Regions from separate parts of the Homo sapiens genome. Here all the other regions are reported to be linked to region 4. Evidence: microRNA targets listed by miRTarBase, many of them from high-throughput screens and not tested one by one. Region 4 holds a microRNA gene; each other region holds the end of a gene's coding sequence.

The links. The annotated mature microRNA hsa-miR-4478 reads GAGGCUGAGCUGAGGAG and lies in region 4 at 1,983-1,999, opposite strand. An mRNA with a match to its seed (bases 2 to 7 or 8) in the 3' UTR can be bound and repressed. Matches are read on the target gene's strand: a 7mer-m8 pairs with bases 2 to 8, a 7mer-A1 pairs with bases 2 to 7 and ends in A, and an 8mer does both.
Region 1: the mRNA of ZNF33A is a reported target of hsa-miR-4478. The part of its 3' UTR that is shown has no 7-base or 8-base seed match.
Region 2: the mRNA of LHPP is a reported target of hsa-miR-4478. Seed matches in the 3' UTR shown: 7mer-m8 at 2,601-2,607.
Region 3: miRTarBase lists CENPN as a target of hsa-miR-4478. Seed matches in the 3' UTR shown: 7mer-m8 at 1,442-1,448, 7mer-m8 at 1,618-1,624, 7mer-A1 at 2,479-2,485 and 7mer-A1 at 2,945-2,951.
Region 5: the mRNA of MRPL49 is a reported target of hsa-miR-4478. Seed matches in the 3' UTR shown: 7mer-m8 at 572-578.
Region 6: the mRNA of ZNF701 is a reported target of hsa-miR-4478. Seed matches in the 3' UTR shown: 7mer-m8 at 1,629-1,635, 7mer-m8 at 3,362-3,368 and 7mer-m8 at 3,497-3,503.

What each region holds. Positions count from the first base shown.
Region 1 is chr10:38,055,757-38,059,628 of GRCh38, forward strand. It overlaps ZNF33A (zinc finger protein 33A), which reads left to right. Exons shown (of 5, transcript NM_006954.2): 5 at 1-3,872. The coding sequence ends at 804. Among named protein-coding and RNA genes, the nearest start is that of ZNF37A, 37 kb to the right of the region's middle.
Region 2 is chr10:124,612,593-124,616,464 of GRCh38, reverse strand. LHPP (phospholysine phosphohistidine inorganic pyrophosphate phosphatase) reads right to left here. Exons shown (of 7, transcript NM_022126.4): 7 at 2,324-3,201. The coding sequence ends at 3,105. Among named protein-coding and RNA genes, the nearest start is that of FAM53B-AS1, 89 kb to the left of the region's middle. RefSeq lists an enhancer at 3,023-3,533.
Region 3 is chr16:81,028,074-81,031,073 of GRCh38, forward strand. CENPN (centromere protein N) reads left to right here. Exons shown (of 11, transcript NM_001100624.3): 10 at 98-224; 11 at 496-3,000. The coding sequence ends at 578. The region is part of intron 2 of CENPN-AS1 (CENPN antisense RNA 1); the gene reads right to left. Among named protein-coding and RNA genes, the nearest start is that of ATMIN, 6.3 kb to the right of the region's middle.
Region 4 is chr9:122,118,165-122,122,036 of GRCh38, forward strand. It overlaps MIR4478 (microRNA 4478), which reads right to left and starts at 2,003; the gene lies at 1,918-2,003.
Region 5 is chr11:65,125,679-65,128,678 of GRCh38, forward strand. It overlaps MRPL49 (mitochondrial ribosomal protein L49), which reads left to right. Exons shown (of 4, transcript NM_004927.4): 4 at 48-1,693. The coding sequence ends at 194. It overlaps SYVN1 (synoviolin 1), which reads right to left. Exons shown (of 16, transcript NM_172230.3): 15 at 2,885-3,000; 16 at 1,601-2,810. The coding sequence ends at 2,704. Among named protein-coding and RNA genes, the nearest start is that of MIR6751, 2.8 kb to the right of the region's middle.
Region 6 is chr19:52,582,796-52,586,667 of GRCh38, forward strand. ZNF701 (zinc finger protein 701) reads left to right here. Exons shown (of 4, transcript NM_018260.3): 4 at 1-3,872. The coding sequence ends at 662. Among named protein-coding and RNA genes, the nearest start is that of ZNF701, 14 kb to the left of the region's middle.

The DNA of each region.
Region 1 (3,872 bases), not on the chromosome of region 4:
AGAACACACACAGGGCAGAAACCCTTTGCATGTCCCGAATGTGGGAAATTCTTTAGCCATAAGTCAACCCTCTCTCAACATTATAGAACACACACAGGGGAGAAACCCTACGAATGTCATGAATGTGGAAAAATCTTTTACAATAAATCATACCTAACTAAACATAATAGAACACATACAGGGGAGAAACCCTATGAATGTAATGAATGTGGAAAAGCCTTCTACCAGAAGTCACAACTCACTCAGCATCAGAGAATTCACATAGGGGAGAAACCCTATAAATGTAATGAGTGTGGAAAAGCTTTCTGCCATAAGTCAGCTCTAATTGTACATCAGAGAACCCATACACAAGAAAAGCCCTATAAATGTAATGAATGTGGAAAATCTTTCTGTGTAAAATCAGGACTTATTTTCCATGAGAGAAAGCACACGGGGGAGAAACCCTATGAATGCAATGAATGTGGGAAATTCTTCAGGCACAAATCATCACTCACAGTACATCACAGGGCTCACACAGGAGAGAAATCTTGTCAATGTAATGAATGTGGAAAAATCTTTTACCGTAAATCGGAACTTGCTCAACATCAGAGATCACATACAGGGGAAAAGCCCTATGAATGTAACACATGCAGGAAAACTTTCTCTCAAAAGTCAAATCTCATTGTACATCAGAGAAGACATATAGGAGAAAACCTTATGAATGAAATGGATATTAGAAATTTCCAGCCACAAGTCAGCCTCCATAATGCCTCAGAGTATTCACACTGTGGAGAAAGCCCTGATGACATCCTGAATGTTCAGTAACTATCCACAAACTCACCTTATGTTACTCCAAAGTAATAGTAGGGGATAAACCCATAGACTACAACAATTATAGGACAGCTTTTGTTAGGAAGTGATATTCTATGTAATATCAGATGGTTAATACGGGCATAACACCTTACAGATTTTTTTTGAATTTGTGAAAGTTTTTGGCAAAAATGCAAATAAGGTTATGTTAGAATTTACACTGAGGAGAAAATTGTCAATTTAAGAAATCTAAAGTGAAAATTTTGCTTAGAAATAAAATACGACAAGTTATGTTTTGAGTTTGATGCCATAATAGTTTTTAGGGCACCTAACAATAATTTATAGATGTATATTGTGGAATGTAAAGCTTTAAGAACTTAAACAAAGGTAATAATTAAAATAACCTCACAAGAAGTTTAATGAGTAGAGAGAATTCCCATGTACACTTCACCAAACTTCCTCTAAGGATAATGTATAATCATAGTATATGGTCAAGTCCAAGAAATCGATGTTACCTTGCTGGTAGATAGAGACTTAGTCAGATTTTACTATGGTTTGCATGCACTCTGTGTGTGTGTGTACGTGTATGTGTGTGTGTGTGGTTATATCAAACTTTTACGACTTTTACATTTGAGTAACCATCAACACGATTAGTTTACAGAACTGAAAAGGAATCTGAGATCTGTACTGTATCAGGATTACAAAGGATTTAGCCTCAAGTAGTTCCCTTTTTGTATTAATAACCACACGCTTTCTGCAACCCTATCCCTTGCATCCACTTGACTATGAAGTTTTTTTAAAGCACAGATAAATTGAATAATCAGGGCAATAGCATTAAGCACATCTGCGAATTATCCCTGAAGTTCAAAAGACTTATATATGTATAAGTGGTATGTGATATAAATCGTGTGTTTCATATGCATAATGGAATTTAACGTAATTGTGAATAGGAAGTAGGTATCCTAGTTTAGTAGTGGTTACATTATCAGGCCCATCCCAGATGTTTGTGATGTCCTGAAACAATTTAAAAGGAGACCCACAGAGCTAATGTTTATCCATTTAAAAGGTATAAATCAAAATAACAAATTATCTAAAAAAAATCTATCCTGTACATGTGAAGATCTAGGCTCGCCTCCATGTTACTCCCTTTCTCTTCCTACCTGTGGCTCATGCCATGCCATGAAGTGCCTAGGGTACATATGTGAACATTCCAGCCTTCAGCATAAGTGGTAGTCCAAATTTTCTTTAAGCAGCTGCTCTCCAAGACAGGGCCCTGGAAAGGCCCACACATACAGCCCAGGGCTGCCCAGGGCTGTTGGACTGTCATTTCAAGGCTCATTGTCCCCAGACAGGGATCTGGGCCCTCAGACTTTTGAGAATATGAAGAGGAGGGTTGAGGCTGGAGCAGAACCAGAATCAAGCTGGTGTGGGGCTTTTATTGATAGTGTGAAGATTGTACACTATATTACATGATCAGATCATACAAATAATCTAAGATTATACAGTCTAGTGATCCTAGATTACACAAGTAATCTAAGCTTCCACTTTAGGAAACTAGAAAAAGAAGAGCAAATTAAATCCAAAGTAACCTGAAAAAACATTAGAGTAAAAATCATTGAAATTGAAAAGAGAAAATCGATAAAACCCAAAACTGGTTCCTTGAAAAGGTCAGTAAAATTGATAAACCTCTAGCTAGCTTAAGAACAAACAGAAGACAAATATTGCTAATACCAAAAATGAAAGAGGCCATCACAGCTAATCCTATGGTCACCAAAAGGATTAGAAAGAAACATGGACAACTCTGTCCATAAATTTGATAACTTAGCTAAAATGGACCAATTCCTTGCAAGACGCATTCTCTCAAAGCTCACACAAGATAGACCTCAATAGGCATATGTATCTATTAAATAAACCAAAGCAGTAATTAATAACCTTCCAAGGCCAGGTACAGTGGTTCATGCCTGTAATCCCAGCACTTCACTTTGGGAGGCTGAGGCGGGTGGATCACAAGGTCAGGAGTTCGAGACCAGCCTGGTCAACATGGTGAAACCCCCTATCTACTAAAAATACAAAAAATTAGCTGGGCATGGTGGCATGCGTGTGTAGTCGAAGCTACTCAGGAGGCTGAGGCAGAAGAATCACTTGAACCTGGGAGGTGGATGTTGCAGTGAGCTGAGATTGTGCCACTGTACTGCAGCCTGGGTGACAGAATGAGACTGCATCTCAAAAAATAATAATGAAACTTTCCAAAACAAAGTGCCAGGACCAGCTGGGTTCACTGATGTGTTTTTGAGATACTTAAGGTAGAAATGATACCAAGTCTCTACCATCTCTTTCAGAAAATAAAAGCAGAGATAACACTTCCCAACTCATTTTGTGAGGCCAGTATTACCCTAATAGCAAAACCAGGCAAAGATATTACAAGAAAGGAAAACTACAGATCAATATTTCCATTGAACACAGATGCAGAAATCCTCAAAATATTAGCAAATCAGGAATGCAAGGCTTGTTCAACATTTGATATTCAGTGTAATCCATTGCATGCATTAGCAGCTCAAAGATGAAATACGATCATATCAATAGGTACAGAAAAAGCATTTGACAAAATCCAATATCCATTCATGTTAAAACCTCTCAACACAGAAGGAATACAGGAGAACTTACTCAAGTTGGTAAAGAACATACTACAAAAAACCCTACAGCTAACATTATCCTTGATGTTTCCAACTAGACACTTTCCTACTAAGATCAGGAACATGGCAAGGAACACCACACCACTGCTTTTCAGCATTGTACTGGAAGTGCTATATAATGCAGTGTTAAAAAAAAAAGAAATAAAATGCACATAGATTTGAAAGGATGAAATACAACTTTGTTCACAAGTAACATGATTGTCTTTGTAGAGAATTCTAAATAACAAAAACCCTGCTGACATTAATAAGCAATTACAGCAGGATTGCAGGATACAGTCCTCAGGTAGATGATAAAAAGGAATTGGACATCAAGTCATTAAAAGACACGGAGAAACCCTAAATGCTTATTGTTAAGTGAAAACCAATCTGAAAAGGCTTTCTATTTTGTAT
Region 2 (3,872 bases), not on the chromosome of region 4:
TGGCTGGACCTCACCCCTCAGAAGAGCTCATCTCTAGAGTGAGGACACTGGTGCCCTGGCTCAGCCGGAAAGTCAGCCACAGGGGCCACCACATGCGTCCCCCACAGGAGGATTCCAGGCAAGGGTGGGAAGCAGCACGGCAACAGAAGGGGCTAGAAAGGGCCTGGGAGGCGGGGCTGGACCTTCCTGCAAGTCGCAGCTCCACCCCTCACTAACTGTTGGCCCTCAGCAAGCCGCGAGCTCACCGCACCCCAGACTCTAGACCCGTGCAGTGGGAAGGATGACAACACCCACTTCACTGAGCCCACCGCGGCTCAGAGGGTGGCATGCTCCCGCCCCAACAAAGCAGGGGGCTGCACCTCCAGGGGCTGTCCCTCTGGGCACCCCACTCCTGGGTAGCAACTTGAAAGAGGAGGTCTCGGCTGGGCGCAGTGGCTCACGCCTGTAATCTCAGCACTTTGGGAGGCCGAGGCAGGCGGATCACAAGGTCAGGAGATCGAGACCATCTTGGCTAGCACGGTGAAACCCTGTCTCTACTAAAAAATACAAAAAATTAGCTGGGCGTGGTGGCAGGTACCTGTAGTCCCAGCCACTCGGGAGGCTGAGGCAGGGAAATGGTGTGAACCCGGGAGGCGGAGTTTGCAGTGAGCCGAGATTGGCCACTGCACCCCAGCCTGGGCGACAGAGCGAGACTCCGTCTCAAAAAAAAAAAAAAAGAGGTCTCAGCTTGAACTCCTTCCCCCAGAGGGGTTGCTGTCTTGGCGGGAAGCTTCCCCATTAAACACAAAAGAAAGAAAAAACTAAAGACCTACAAACAAACCGGCATCACGCACAGCCTGGCATCACGCACAGCCCGGCATCACGCACAGCCCGGCATCACCCCCAGCCCGGCATCACGCACAGCCCGGCATCACACACAAACCCGGCATCACACACAGCCCCGGCATCACCCGCAGCCCGGCATCACCCGCAGCCCGGCATCACGCACAGCCCGGCATCACCCGCAGCCCGGCATCACCCACAAACCCGGCATCACGCACAGCCCGGCATCACCCACAAACCCGGCATCACGCACAGCCCGGCATCACCCGCAGCCCGGCATCACCCACAAACTCGGCATCACCCACAAACCCGGCATCACGCACAGCATGGCATCACCCACAGCCCGGCATCACGCACAGCCCGGCATCACGCACAGCCCCTCCAGGCTGCCACTGAACTGCAGCCGCCGCCTGAACGTCCTGTATTGTCTCCTAAGGAGCTGCCATCAGGGGACTCCATCAAGGAGCCAGCCATCTGCATATTTTCCAACTAAGGGGCCAAATGGCCCTCCCTCAAATCCAGTGACACTGGCCCGGCTGGTGGCCTCTCATCTTGCTGAAAAGACTGTCACCGTTTCCCCCAATCCTGATTTAATGGGCGGCCTTGCGGGGGCTGTACTTGCCCCTCCCCGGCGTGGGTCCCACACTTTCTTATCGTCCACCTTCATGTGGTGGAAATCCTGCTCCGGAGACCCATGGCTTCTCTCATAAGAAGCGCTCTCCAGGCCGGGCGCAGTGGCTCATGCCTGTAATACCAGCACTTTGGAAGGCCGAGGTGGGCGGATCACCTGAGGTTGGGAGTTCGAGACCAGCCTGACCAACATGGTGAAACCCTGTCTCTACTAAAAATACAAAAAATTAGCCAGGCGTGGTGGCGGGCACCTATAATCCCAGCTACTCGGGAGGCTGAGGCGGGAGAATAGCTTGAACCCAGGAGGCGGAGGTTGCAGTGAGCTGAGATCACGCCAGTGCCCTCCAGCCTGGGCAACGAAAGCAAAACTCCATTTCAAAAATAATAATAATAAAATAAAATAAAGAAGCAGTCTCTCAAGGGTTATCAGTAGCTTCTGAACTGATTTGGGGAGAAATGGAGCAATCAAGTTATCTGTTCAGCTGACTGATTCTGAAACCTGAAACTTCAGTTATGAGTGATTTGTTCCCAGGGCCCCTGTGGGAAGGCCGCCGCGCCCTTGGTCGGGAAAGCAAAGCTCACCACCCCCAGGCCACAGGCTGTTCCGTTAGGGAAGGCAGTGCCAAAGTTTGCCCTGGACTGCCTCGTTCCAGATAGGGCCAACAGCAGCTCACTGGCCCCTCTGGGCCTCAGTTTCCCCATCTGCTAAGTGAAGGGGCTGGAGCAGGTGAGGTGTTTCAGGGCCCTTGTCCCTCGCACCTCTGATATTCAGTGGCTCAAGCATAAGGCAGGACTAGAGACAGTGGCCCAGACCCTGCTGGTGGCCTCCCCCATACGGTTCTTCCTAGCAGTCAAAGCCTGAGTCAAAGGCTGCTGGTCAAGGCAGAGTTTACTGAACTGTTAGTTTCCTCCTGCACACACCGGGCATGACACCTTCAAGTCTGTCCAGCAGTGGGTCCAGAAAGTACCCTGTGTGCCTTGGACGCAGAGGCTACAGTTCTCACTGTGTGGCATGGGAGCCTTCACAGTGCCCTCGGGAGCTGCCCCTGGTCTTTGTCTGCAAAGGTGACTGGGAGGATAGAAAAAGCAGCGGGCTGGCATTGTTTCGGGGGTGGGGTGGTGGGCAGTGTGCCTGGGCAGTCGCAGGGAGGCTGACTTGGTTCTGGGCTGCAAGATCTGTGCATAGGAGGCCCCTGGGTTTCTTCCAGGCTCTTCACTGAAATGCAAAGAGTCTGAAGAGGAGGCAGTGGGCATAGTGCCCCTGAATCTGGTTAGGTGGAGTTTACTGCATTTAAAGGCCCATGGTGAGTGGTGAGTTCTGGGATTTGGGAGATTCCCAGAGGCCTGACAGGCCTGTCCCACCCTCCTGGACTTCACTACAGGGAGCTGAAGTCAGGGCCCAGGCAGGGGAGCAGGCCACCCAGGTAGGGAACAAATGCCTGCCCATGCAGGGCAGAGGGCAGAAGGCAGGGCTGTCAGGGCCTTGGTTGGTCTGGGCACTGGGGCAGGTGGAGGGGAGGCAGGGGTGGAGGAGAGGCAGGGGTGGAGGAGGTGGGGCTCTCCTGGGCGGGTGGAGGAGAGGCAGGGGTGGAGGGGAGGCAGGGGTGGAGGAGAGGCAGGGGTGGAGGAGGCGGGGCTCTCCCAGGAGGCCATCACTTGTCGGCGTGCTGCAGCAGCAGGTCCACTGCCTCTGCGAGGTTGTCCACGTACCCATCAGCCTTCACTTCCGGATGGTGCTCGTCACTGGGCCTGGAGAGGATGGCCGGAGGTTAGTCAGTGCCCCCACGCTGACCCCTCTGCAGCCACACCCACCCTCCCAGCATCTAACATGGGCCTGGCCTTAGCTTGAGGAAACCTCCAGGTCCTGCCAGGCAGCCTGGCCCGTGGCCACTGGCCATCCCCCTCCTCCCCCTGCCCTACTCAGGCACACATGGCCCCTCCTGACTGTGCCCTCAACCTGGACACCTCCCCAAACCTGTCTCCCACTGGGGAGCCTGCTCAGCCTTGTGGTGGAGTGACAGCCGGCCCAGCTCCCTCTGGGCCTCCAGCACAGACATCTCACCTTGGATGGTGGGGACATGAGTGTACCCTGCTCTGGGCTCCCCAGGGGCTCACCCCACACCCCTGGCCTGGCCTAGTGCCCCGTGGGAGGAGCCTAGTCCATGTGCACTGTGGGGACAGCTGGGGTAGAGACTCGGAGCTCCTGCCTGCCCTAACGCTGGGGGCCCGCATGTCAGTGACAGCATGTGTCTTCTGGTTGGTGCCCTCTGAGGCCACGCCCACCCAACAGAGGAGGCACCGGGCTCCTGGATAAACTGCCCTCTGGCTGGGATTCTGGGGGCAGCAACCTCTCCAAAGCCTTCAGCCATTCCCCAGGCATCTCCTGAGGTCTCACTGGATGCTGAGGACACAGGAATGAA
Region 3 (3,000 bases), not on the chromosome of region 4:
CAAGAATTAATGAAACGTATCATTATGATTTCATTATATTTTACCATTCGTATTTATACAATATGTTTAATAGTCATTTATAAATGTTTGTTGACAGCTTGAAACGAAATTCAAAAGTGGTTTAAATGGGAGCATCTTGGCTGAGAGGGAAGAACCCCTCCGATGCCTAATAAAGTTCTCTAGCCCACATCTTCTGGAAGCATTGAAATCCTTAGCACCAGCGGGTGAGTGGTCAGCTTACTCTATAAGCTAGAAAAATTAACAACATGCCTCCATTCCATCCTTATAATCTGCTAATTACTTCTGAGCTCACCCATCACCCTAGTCTGCTAGCCCATCCTGCTCTCTCTTGCATCTTCTGCTTCTGTACTTAATAGGGAGGAGGGGCATCTATGATCCACCCTCTAATCTCAGCCATTTTTAAACTGACTCAAATCCATCCTCCTGTGATGACTTTTAATTTTCTTTTTCCCTTTTTTTTTTTTTTAATTTCAGGTATTGCAGATGCTCCACTTTCTCCACTGCTCACTTGCATACCCAACAAGAGAATGAATTATTTTAAAATTAGAGATAAATAAGACGTGCGTGGTTTCTTAAGCACAGCTCCTCCTTCTTGATATTGCACATGCACTTCAGTTCATGGCTAGCTGTATAGCTTCCGTCTGTAAACTTGTATTTTCAAGAATCCTTGGTATTGAATTTTTAGAAATGCTCACATAATTGTTGGGACTGATTCATTCCTCCACGATATGCCTCCTCTCTCTGATATCCTGCTAACTGTAGCCGTTGTGGCATTTGAGATGACAGGACATATATATATATGGCCCCACACTTGACCTTGAGTGCCTGAATGCTCTGAAATCAAGCATATGGCACAGCGCTCAAGACTTTTGGGTTTGTGTCCTTTTTTCTATGGCTGTCTCTTCTCAATTCTGGAGAGGTCTGGTTCCAGTGGCTGGTTTCCAGGGATTGATTCTTAAGCTCTGGATCACAGAGAGAAGCAACAAGGAACTATACTCAACTCAAAACTTTTTAGGAGAATCATGAAATTGGTCTATTCAAAGGATGGAGTTGAGTCCATTCTGTTATTGTTGCAAGAGGTTGCATATTTGGTGAGTCAGTTATATAAAATAGTGTTCTTATTGTAAATATGATACTTCTCATAATCTATTTTATCATGTGTATAACATTCAAACTGACAAATATATTGACTTATGAATAAAGGTGTCAAAAAACTGGCACATCAGTTAATTTTGATCAAAGTACTTCAGTGATCATCACTAAATACCCTATCTTTTTAAAAATTTTTTCCTTTCTAATTTTTTATTTCTTTATTTATTTATTGAGACAGGGTCTCACTGTGTCACCCAAGCTGGAGTGCAGTGGCATGATCATGGCTCACTGCAGCCTGGACCTCCCAGGCTCAAGTGATCCTTCCACCTCAGCCTCCCGAATAGCTGGGATTACAGACGCGCTCCATCCTGCCCAGCTAATTTTTTTTTTGTTTGTTTTTTGTTTTTTGAGACAAGTCTCCTTCTATCGCCCAGGCTGGAGTGCAATGGCACAATCTTGGCTCCCTGCAACCTCTGCCTCCTGGGTTGAAGAGATTCTCCTGCCTCAGCCTCTGAGTAGCTGGGACTACAGGCCTGCACCACCATGCCCAGCTAATTTTTGTATTTTTAGTAGAGACAGGGTTTCTCCATGTTGCCCAGGCTGATCTCAAACTCCTGGGCTCAAGCAATCTGCCCATTTTAGCCTCCTAAAATGCTGGGATTATAGGAGTGTATTAGTCTATTCTCATGCTGCTAATAAAGATACCTAAGACTGGGTAATTCACAAAGGAAAGAGGCTTAACTGACGCACATTTCCACGTGGCCAGGGAGGCCTCACAATCATGGTGGAAGGCAAATGAGAAGCAAAGTCATGTCTTACATGGCGGCAGGCAAGAGAGCTTGTGCAGGGAAACTCCCATTTATAAAACCACCAGAGCTCATGAAACTTATTCACTACCATGAGAATAGTATGGGGGAAATCGTTCCCATGACTCAAGTATCTCCACCTGGCCCTGCCCTTGTCACATGGGGGTTATTACAATTCAAGGTGACACTTGTGTGGAGACACAGCCAAACCATATCACAGGCATGAGCTACCACGCCCGCCAGCATGTCTTTTTTAAACATTTTAAAATCTATTCTTTATCTTGTTTCAGAGAGGATTTGGAGTTACAGAAACACATTAGACTGGGCATGGTGGCTCACACTTGTAATCCCAGCACTTCAGGAGGTTTCTCCTAGTGTACTCTCACACTTCTGATACCAGATATGTGGGGGAGGGGGTTTCCCCCACACATTAAGCAAGTGTGAAACATGATATAGAAAAATGACTTCACTCTGGGCCGGGTGTAGTGGCTCACGCCTGTAATCCTAGCACTTTGGGAAGCCGAGGTGGGCAGATCACCCGAGGTCAGGAGTTCGAGACCAGCCTAGCCAACATGGCAAAACCTTGTCTCTACTAAAAATAGAAAAATTAGTTGGGGGTAGTGGCAGCCGCCTGTAATCCCAGCTATTCGAGAGGCTGAGGCAGGAGAACTGGTTGAACCGGGGAGGCAGAGGTTGCAGTGAGCCAAGATCATGCCACTGCACTCTAGCCTGGGTGACAGAGTGAAACTCTGCCTCAAAAAATAAAATAAAGGCCAGGCATGGTGGCTCACGCCTATAATCCCAGCACTTTCAGAGGCCAAGGCAGGTGGGTCACAAGGTCAAGAGTTTGAGACTAGCCTTAGCAACATGGTGAAGGTGAACCCCGACTCTACTAAAAATACAAAAATTAGCTGGGCCTGGTGGTGTGCACCTGTAATCCCAGCTACTTAGGAGGCTGAGGCAGGAGAATCGCTTGAACCCGGGAGACATAGGTTGCAGTGAGCCGAGACTGCACCACTGCACTCCAGCCTAGGTGACAGAGTGAGACTCCATCTTAAAAAATAAATAAATAAAATAAAAT
Region 4 (3,872 bases):
TGCCCAATGTCAGGCTCTCTCTGCCTCTGCAAGAAATGTCAGGGAGAAGATGACCAAGTGGTATTGGACAGAATGGCAGTGATGCTGAGGAAGAAACCAAAGGTGAGGGCCCTCTCCCTTTGTATTAAACGAAACTTTCCAGGCTTAGGCCCTGCAGCCTGTACGGTGTCAAAAAACAATTGTCATAAGTTGTCGACACTTGGAAACATTTAAACTTATGAGGTTTCACATTAAAATCTGTATTACTGCCTTCCTTTACAAATCTGGAAGAAGGAATGCATCTGTATAGGTGGGTAAGAGCAGGGGCTCTGGAGTCAGACTACCTGGGTTCCAATCCTAACTCTGCCACTAGCTTGCTGTGTGTCCTTGGCTGAGTTACTTAACCTCTCTGTGCTCTGCTTCCTTCGTCTGCATAACGGGGATAATAACAGCACTTTCACCAAGATTGTCATGGAGATTAAATAAGAAAGTGCCTATACAGCACTTCTTTAGAACAGCACCAGGCACAAAAGAAGCATGCAAAATGTTAGCTGGTGTTATTTGTAACTTTTTTTTTTTTTTTGAGACAGGGTCTTTCTCTGTCACCCAGACTGGAGTGCAGTGGCACAATCATGGCTCACTGCAGCCTTGACCTCCTGAGCTCAAGTGATCCTCCTGCCTCAGCCTCCCAAGTAGCTGGAACTACAGGCTTGAGCCACCGTGCCTGGCCGTTTGTATCATTATTTACAGTGTTTAGTATTAGGCAGTGCTGCCCCTGGATTCTGTCCCAGGCAGAGCTGAGTAATAGCTGCCCCTTTAGATGAAGTGTGACCTCTTCCATTGTCCACAGCCCACAACCCCAGGGACCAAGGCTGAGGTCCTAAAAAAGCCAACACTGTGTAGGGGCCTGACTCCTGGCTGCTATGTGACTTTGGACAGTCACTCCCTCTGTCTGGGCCAGTGTCCTCACTTATAAACCAGAGGCACAGGGCCCTGAAAACATTATGCTAAGTGAAAGAAGCCAGACACGGAAGGCCACATAATGTCTAATTCCATTCCTACCAAATGCCCAGAATACGAAAATCCATGGAGACGAACAGTGAATTAGTGGTTGCAGAGGCTGACGGAATGGGGAGTGACATCTCATGGCCACAGGGTTTCTTGTGGGGTCACAAAAATGTTCTGGAGCGCCATAGTGGAACCGGTTGCACAACCTTATGAACACAGTCATGCGTTACTTAATGATGGGGATACGACCGGGCACAGTGGCTCATGCCTGTAATCCCAGCACTTTGGAAGGCCGAGGTGGGCGGATCACCTGAGGTCAGTAGTTCGAGATGAGCCTGGCCAACATAGCGAAACCCCATCTCTACTAAAAATACAAAAATTAGCTGGGTGTGGTGGCACGTGATTGTAATCCCAGCTGCTCAGGAAGCTGAGGCAGAAGAATTGTTTGAACCCGGGAGGCGGAGGTTGCAGTGAGCCGAGATCGTGCCACTGCACTCCAGCCTGGACGACAGAGTGAGACTCCATCTCAAAAAAAAAAAAAAAAAAAAGATGGGGATACATTCTGAGAAATGTGTCACCGGGCAATTTTGGTGGGCAAACTTACATGAACCTAGATGGTGTAGCCTACTGCACAACTAGGCCACATGGCATAGCCTATTGCTCCTACACTATAAACCTGTACAGCATGGTACTGTGCTGAATACTGTCAGCAATTGTAATGCAATGCTAAGTATGTGTGTATCTAAATATATCTGGATGGTTTCCCTGCAGGTAACAGCTGGCTCTGATGTCCTAAGGAGACCCCAGCGCCATGACAAACCCAGGGATCTCTGATTGCTCCCAGCCTGAGTCGCTTCATATCCTACATGGGAGGCTGAATCCACAATCCCTCCTGCAGACGTACCCTCTCCTCTCCCTTGTCCCTGCAGAGGCCAGGGCTGCAGGGGATGAGGCTCGCCCCTAGTACTGCATGACCCTGTCTACAGGTTTGGAGGCTCCTCAGCTCAGCCTCGGCCCCTGGGCTCTTGTCTTGCTAAGCCCAGAGACCCAGCTCCCACTGGGCTTGGTGGCTGCTTGAAGTGGATCATGCCTTGCACCTCCCCCTCCTCTCCAGAATCTTCTATGTGTGCCGAGACTCCCAGAACAGGAGACATTTGGCTACATCACCCAAGATGGTGCCCACTTTCCATTGCCATGGGTCTAAGAAAAGGTGAAGTTCCCTCCCCCAGCCCTTCCCTGCCTGCTGAGGGATAGGACATGTGTCCCCATTTGCAGTGGATGCAGGGAGGGCTGGAGAAATGCTCTGTGCTCTGAGTAAGGCATGTTCCCCTGTAAGTGTGCCCATGACAGCTTGTGTATGCATATGTGCATGTATGGATATGCATGTTTGTTGGCAGGGATCTGTGCACATTTGTAGGTCTGCCTTTCTACCCGTCTTGTGTTCTGGACTGTGCACATATCTGCCTTGACAGACTTATCAATGTTCACACACTGGCTACACCTGTACCTTGTCTATATGTGTGGCTGCGTGCGTGAGTCTGCTGGAGCTCAGCACTTGTGTGGCTGAGCTGTTTACACCTGTCTGAATATGAGGGGTGTGTTCACGTGTCCCCTGAACGCACACTAGTGCATGTGTCCCTTCTGTGTGTGTCAAGGCAGGCCGCACGGCCATGAGGACCATAGCCCAGGCCTTGGAAGTTTTCCACGAGCTTAGACTCCAGCACCCACTGCACATGGCAAATGGCACCAGTGACCTGCCGTGGAAGGCACAGATGCCAGAGGGCACCACTACTCCAGCAGGAGCAACACCAACAAGGCCAGCACCAGCCCCACCCATGGCCTCCAGAGATCCTGGAGCCTGGAGGGCCCAGACGAGCTGGCAGCTCCAGGCTCCAGGCTCCTCAAGGTCCCACAGACAGGCCAAAATCCAGACAGCGGGAAGGGACAGCACAAGCCGGAGCCTGGGGACCAGAGGCAGTTTGGGGGTGCTCCATGGGGCCACACCCCAAGCCTGCTCTACATATTCTTCTAGGGCTCCAGAAGTGGGGAAAACCACAGGTGGGGAAGGCTGCCCCACAGGTGTACAGGTACAGGTGTGAGGCTGACATAGGTGGGTGAAGGATCAGAATCAAGAAGAGGAGATACTTCCTGCCTGATGAGTCTCTAGCTGTCCCCTCCAGGGCGCAAAGCCCCAGCACCTCCTTCTCTCCTGTCTTTGGGGCACCCAGCCATGGCCCCAGCCCCTTGGGCTCCAGCAGCAGCAGCAGATACAGGAGGCTGAGGCTCAAGTGAGAGTGGCTAGAGGGCAAGTGAGCTGAGCAGGTGGAGGCCAGACCACCCTTTCCCATCCCAGCTGGCCCGGGCCACAGGTGCCACTCGATGAGGCCTCAGCTAAGCACCGAGACAGTTGCCCTCAGACAGCCCACGCCAGCCAGCTCCCTGCACCAACCGGAAGCTCCTGCGGCACCTGGCACCACCCGAGGCCCGCCTGGGAAAGAGAGGGCCTGAGAGCCAACTCAGCCTGGCACCCGGGAGGCGATGGTCTGGTGAGACTTGGGAAGCTGAAGGTCCTGCCCCAGGTGGAACTCAGAAAGATAAAGAAATGGCAGCTCAGAGATAGGAGGGGACTTGCATAGGCTGCCTGTCCAGGCAGCGGCCAAGCTCTTGTGACTGTAGAGTCCTTTATTACCCTTTCCCACTCCCAAGCCAAAATGCTGGTACCAGGACCCAACTGAGTCAGATCCATCTTCAGTTTCCCCTAGACACCCACCCAGTGGGCTCCAAGAGGCCAAATCCCGGGGACTGGACCCCTAGGACAAGTCGGTGACCCAGGGTTGCCTGCCCTTCTTTGCCCCAATACCAGGACTGCCCTGGGCCTATAACAT
Region 5 (3,000 bases), not on the chromosome of region 4:
TAAGGGAAGGGACTCTTGGCCTGACCTGATTTGTCATCTTTCCCCAGGCCCTGCAGAAAGACGTGGAAGATTTTCTGAGCCCGCTGCTGGGGAAGACACCTGTCACCCAGGTCAATGAGGTGACAGGTACCCTACGGATCAAGGGCTACTTTGACCAGGAGCTTAAAGCCTGGCTCTTGGAGAAAGGCTTCTGAGGCCCAGCCGAGCAGCCTGCTTGTCAGCATGCCCTGTGGATCAAGTCTAGGGGGCCTCAGGAGGAGGGAGGTGGGTGTTGGAGCCCCTGAGACAGGGGATACAGAAACTAGGGCTAAAGGACTTTGGGGTCAGGCCTTGCTTGCATAAAGGAGAAAACAACTCTATGTACATGCTGGGGGAGAGTGCCTAATGTGGGAGACCAAATAGGGATCACCAGGCTAATGGGGGGCGTCAGCAGCTTTCTCTCCCTCCTATCTTGGCCTGTTCTTTTTTGTTTTTTGAGACGGAGTCTCACTCTGTTGCCCAGGGTGGAGTGCAGTGGCATGATCTTGGCTCACTGCAACTTCCACCTCTGGGATCAAGGGATTCTCCTGCCTCAGCCTCTTGAGTAGCTGGGATTACAGGCGCCCACCACCACAGCCTGCTAATTTTTGTATTTTTAGTAGAGATGGGGTTTCACCATGTTGGCCAGGCTGGTCTCAAACTCCTGACTCGAAGTGATCCGCCCACCTTGGCCTCCCAAAGCGTTGGGATTATAGGCATGAGCCATGTGCCTGGTCCACCTTGGCCTGTTTTGTTTTTCTTTCCTTGGGCTCAGCAATTCAAATTCTAGTTGTTATTTGGTGGAAGCAGTAGCCCAACCCCAGTTTAGGGGAAGGTAGCACAGGGCAGAGCCACTGGGCACTTTGTTTCCTTGGCCCTCCGAAGCTCACTGTTGCAAATACCCCCAAGCCTTTGCTCTAGGCCAGATCTTGTTTGGTGCAGGTGATGGAGAACACAGATGACTCGGGCATGGGTCTTGGAGATCTTCTGTTCAAAGTACAGTGCTGGCACTGGGGCACAGAGTGCCCACGTTAGCCCCGGGCTCTGATAGAGAGGTAGGAGGCACGTTCTTGGTCACTGTTCCATTGCAGACCAGACTTGCTGGCCTGACCACAAGGGAGTGGCTGGGAACTCACAGCCAGCATAGGGACATCCCCCTGCAGCCTTCTGACCTGCAATCAAGGCTGGGGAGGGGTTTGCAGGCAGGAATATGCTGACCTTTCACCCTGCCATCCCATCCCAACCCCAGCTCACTAGCCTTCATATATGCCTTATACTTGGAGTCACAGGGGCCAAAGGCCTGAGACCCCACCCTGCCCCCAAACTGGCTAAGACAGCTTTCAGTTCCTGACTCCCCAACTTGGTCTCTGCCCTGAAGCAGGGCACTGAACTCTGGGCTGCTTCTCTGTGTGTAAAATGGGCACATCTTCCTAATCTGTTAATGGTCAGTGGTGTCCCCAAGGATAGTGCTGGCTTCCATGGAAACCCTCACTCCTGGAGATTCCATTCCATTTTCAAGTGTACAGCCACAGCAAGGAGCCCGACACTGATTTGATCGATTCTGTGACACAAACCCCACCAATTGTTAATGCAAGTTTTTATTTGGCTGTATATACAATTTAAGCTATTAAAATTTGTACAATATTTACAAATTAAATAATCATCTGAAACTGTCTCCAACAACTCTTGTAACACAAAACCAAGGGGAAAAGACAGGGGCAGGCAGGTCCCAGCTCCTGTGGTCCCTCCTTGGCACAGAGCCTTTTCTAAACTGGAAAGACCAGGAGTCTGGCACTCCTGTTCCTCTTTCCCGGGATTAAGCATTCAACTTCAAAAGACAAAATTTAAGCCAAAAGACACTAGTAAGGAAGTAATTCCAATTCTAAACTTCAGAAGTTCTGCCAGTTGAGAAGTGGCCTTCCTTGGGCGCTGGGATTGCAGTGGTCAGGAGCAGGCGCACTGGCCCTTGCCTGGAGTGCGGCTGGGCAGTGGCTGCTGGGTGAGACAGGTCAGTCTCACTTGAGAAGCTGCAGAGGAAAGGGGCCTGGGGGGAGGGGCGGGGCAGGGTCCCTCAGTGCTGCCCGCCTGCACCCCCACTCCCAGGCATTCCTTTCCCTGAGTTGTGTGGTTGCCAGTAAGACGCAGAAATGCCACAGGGCATAGGGGGCACAGCCACCACCACAAGAGGCTTCTGGGGAGATCAGGGTAAGAAAAGGAAATGGGTACCAGTCTTAGGGGTGGGCCAGCGAGCAAGTTCATAGCTTGCCTCCAGCCCCTCTGGAGTCCACACTTGGGAACGGGAGCTAATACTGTTCGGCACTGCAGTGTGACTCCGCACATACAAGTAGGGCTTGGAGGGGCAGCCCCTTCTCCTGGAAAGGGGTGGGGGAAGAAGAGGGCTTCTCAGAGGCTAAACCTTCTGCCTTCATGGCCCCAGCAGAACACAGGGCTGAAGAGTTGGAGAGGAAGGCTGGAACTGACCCGAGATCCCCATGGCTGCCTGGGACTGGAGTCAAATGGGAACCCCAGCCTCTTTCCACTTGGCCTAGGGGATGCCGCCTCTTTCTCAGAGCTGGGGGTACTACTCCCTGGTGCAGACAGAGAGGGAGCTGGCACTTGGTGGCAGGACATGTTCCAGCGAGGGCTGCTCAAAAGAGCAGAGGCTGGGGCTGGGCTGGGGCAGTGTCAGTGGGCAACAGGAGACTCCAGCTTCTGCAGGCGGCGCCGGCGGAGCTCTGCTGCATCGGGCTCTCCATCCTCAGGCATCTCCTCTGTGCCCACTGACTCAGGAGCTGGGGACAGAGAGACTGGAAGTGGAACCTAGAGAAGTTCCCTGCTCCCCCGGCTGGAGGCCAATCACACCTACCTGGAGGCCTTTCCATTTCAGGGGCTGGTGGGGAGGCTCCTGGGGTTGGGGTCGTGGCCTCTGAGCTAGGGATGCTGGTGGAGGAGGCAGCAGCAACAACTGTAGTGGCAGTCTCC
Region 6 (3,872 bases), not on the chromosome of region 4:
ATGTATGCGGCAAGGACTTTCATCAGAAGCGATACCTTGCATGCCATAGATGTCACACTGGTGAGAATCCTTACACGTGTAATGAGTGTGGCAAGACATTCAGTCACAATTCAGCCCTGTTAGTTCACAAGGCAATTCATACTGGAGAGAAACCTTACAAGTGTAATGAATGTGGCAAGGTTTTTAATCAACAATCAAACCTTGCACGTCATCATAGAGTTCATACTGGAGAGAAACCTTACAAATGTGAAGAATGTGACAAAGTTTTCAGTCGCAAATCACACCTTGAAAGACATAGGAGAATTCACACTGGAGAGAAACCATACAAATGTAAGGTTTGTGACAAGGCTTTCAGACGTGATTCACACCTGGCACAACATACTGTAATTCACACTGGAGAGAAACCTTACAAGTGTAATGAGTGTGGCAAGACCTTTGTTCAAAATTCATCTCTTGTAATGCATAAGGTCATTCATACTGGAGAGAAACGTTACAAGTGTAATGAATGTGGCAAGGTTTTTAATCACAAATCAAACCTTGCATGTCATCGTAGACTTCATACTGGAGAGAAACCTTACAAGTGTAATGAATGTGGCAAGGTTTTTAATCGAAAATCAAACCTTGAACGTCATCATAGACTTCATACTGGAAAGAAATCTTAGAAGTGTAAATTTGCAAGGTTTTTAGGCAACAGTCAAACCTTGCATGTCATCATAGACTTTATACTGGAGAGAAACCTTACAAATGTGAAGAATGTGACAAAAGTTTTCAATTTCAAATCACTCCTTGAAATACATAGGAGAGTTCATACTGGAGAGAAACCATACAAATGTAAGGTTTGTGACAAGGATTTCGGGTGTGATTCACACCTGGCCCAACATACTGGAATTCACACTGGAAAGGAACTGTACAAGTGTAATGAGTGTGGCAGAGCCTTTGGTGGTCAGTCAACACTTACTCACCATCAAGCAATCCATGGTATAGGGAAACTTGACTAATGTAATGATTGTCACAAAGTCTTCAGTAATATTACAGCCATTGCAAAACATTGGAGAATCCATAATGAAGGAGGTCTTACAAGTGTAATAAATGTGGCAAGTTTTTCAGACATCATTCATAACTTGCAGTTCATTGGCGATCTTATACAGGAGAGAAATCTTACAAATGTGATGATTGTGGCAAGGTCTTCAGTCAAGCTTCATCTTTTGCAAAACGGGAGAATTCATACAGGAGAGAAACCTCACAAGTGTGATGATTGTGAGCAAAGCCTTTACTTCACGTTCACACCACATTAGATATCAGAGGATCCATACTGGACAGAAATCTTACAAACGTCCTATGTGTGGCAAGGTCTTCAGTCCGAGGTTACTCCTTGCAGAATATCATAACGTTCATTTTTGAGGTAATAGTTACAAATGCGGTGAGCACAGCAAACCATCAAGGATTGACAGTAGAGTCAATTCAGAATTGACTTGAGTTTGAGTTGACTTAAAACATTCAGTTGAAGCATTAATTGACATTAAAGTGTTTATGTTAAGAGGATTGGGCCAGGCGTGTGGCTCACGCCTGTAAATCCAGCACTTTAGGAGCCCAAGGTGGATAGATCACTTGAGGTCATGAGTTTGAGATCAGCCTGGCCAACAGACGTGAGTCACTTTTCCCAGCCTGCTTTTTGTTTCTTTAACAAAAACCAATAGGGGTTTTTATAGGTATTGTGTTGAATCTGAATCACATTGGCTTATATAATAACAATATTGATTTTTCCAAACCATCAATGTGGGTTGTATATATATGTTTTTAATCATTTTGGTTAATGTTTGTAGATTTCAAGGTGTGAAATTCTCAGTTTTTTTATGTTTATTCCTAAGTATTTCTTACTTTAAGATCTCTAGCAAATGGAAGTGTTTTTTAATTTTCGTTTAAATTTTTTATTGTTTATGGAAATTCAATTAATTTTTGGTGCTGCTATTGCATTGTGCAAATCCACTGAATGTGTTGATTAGTTCCAGTAGTATTTTGGTTGACTCAGGCCCCGCCCACCTCTTCGCCTCCCGTCTGGCCTGACCCAGGCCCCGCCCACCTCCTCGGGGGTCTCCCCGCGGGTCTGGCTTCTGTACTGTGCTGATTGGCACAGACCCGGAAGCTGATGGCATGGACTGAAGGTTGCCCCGTTGAGTTTGCGCTTCCCAGTTCTCTGGTACTGCTATACCGGGGACGTGGGTGTCTCCACAGACCTGGAAATTCCGGCCCCTCTTTCTCAACTCAGAGCAAATTGAGACGTCCGGGTGGGAGTCCGTGAGTCTTTTCCTTTTGAGTTTAAAGTCGCCCTGAGGCTGGTCCCGTCCCGGTCTTTTCTGCAGTAGGGCCGTGCAGACACCTCCTGTAGCGAAACTTTCCTTCTCAAAACCCTTCCCGACCCGTCCTCCCGCCTCGCGCTGTTTCAGGTCCTCACCAGCGAGTTGGACTCTCGCCCTGGGCTCCTCATCGGCGCCTGGAGGGCAGCGCTGCAGCCCCACTCCCGGGAAGGCCGCGTCCTCTGCCTGGTCCTGGGATCCTGCAGACCCCACCCCTGTCCGAAGGCGCCATCGCCCACCACCTCCCTCCTCGTGCCGGCCCTGCTTCTCCCCAGTTCCAACCCCAGGAAAACGTGCTTCTCCTGGAGGCAACCCTCTTTTTCCACCCTCGCCCTGTTGTTCCCGGAAGGCAGGCCTGGAATGTGAAGTTTCCAGGTAGATGGATATTAAACATAGAATTGAAGAAAAAAAAAAAAACCCCACAAAGTAACAAAAGAATGAAGCGGCGAAAGCAGAAATTTACTCAACCAAGAAAGCACCCCACAGGGTGGGGGTGGGCCCAAGCGAGCGTCTCCAGGGCCCCATTTACAAAGTTTTTGGAGGTTATTTTTTTTTGAGGTCCCTATGGGCTACCCCTTATCTGGATGAAGAATTTGGCCCTTGGCCAAGGAAATAACTGAGGTAAATTGGCCTGAGGCCAGAGCAGATGGGTGCCCTATGCAGATGAAGGGGTGGCCGGTGCTTGGCCTTGGCCACTCCTGGGCTCTTTCTCTTTCCACCTGCGACCTGGTGGAAGGGGGAGGGTGTTAGGGAGAGTAGCCTTTGATCCTTTGTTACTTTGGGTGGGAAGATGGGGTTTTTCCTTTTAGTCTAGTTTTGGAAAGTTCGCGTTAATTGGTTTTAGATTCCCTGCCTCCCTAGACCCAGGACCCATGTGGTTTTTTTTGTTTTTGTTTTTGTTTTTTTGATGGAGATGGGGTCTTACTCTGCTGCGCAGGCCGAAGAGCGGTGACCGGATCACAGCTCACTGCAGCTTCAACCTCCTGGGCTCAAGGGATCCTCCCACCTCAGCCTGCAGAGTAGCTGGGACCACAGCCGCGCGCCACCACACCGCGCCAATTTTTGTGTTCTTGGTAGAGACCGGGTTTTGCCTTGTTGTCTAGGTTGGGCTCCAACTGCAGGGCTAAAGCGATCCAAGAGCATCAGCCTCCCAAAGTGCTGGGATTACAGGCTTGAGCCACCATGCCCGCCTTATTTCTTAATTTAAAAAAAAAAATGTATATGTAGACTGAACGCGGTGGCTCATGCCTGTCATCCCAGCACTTTGTGAGGCCGATTCTCCTCTATCCAGGAGACGGGTTTCACCATTTTGCCAGGTTTGTCTCAAACTCCTCGGCTTAACTGATCCGCTTGCTTTGGCCTTCCAAAGTGCTAGGATTACAGGAGTGAGCCACCACACGTAGCCAGTCCTGGCATTTTGTAGAAGGATGGCCAACGCAGCCTGTTGACCCTTCCTGGCCATCACATGAAAATCAGCGACTCTTCCTTCTTACAAAACTCGGAGCTTCTCAGGATAAC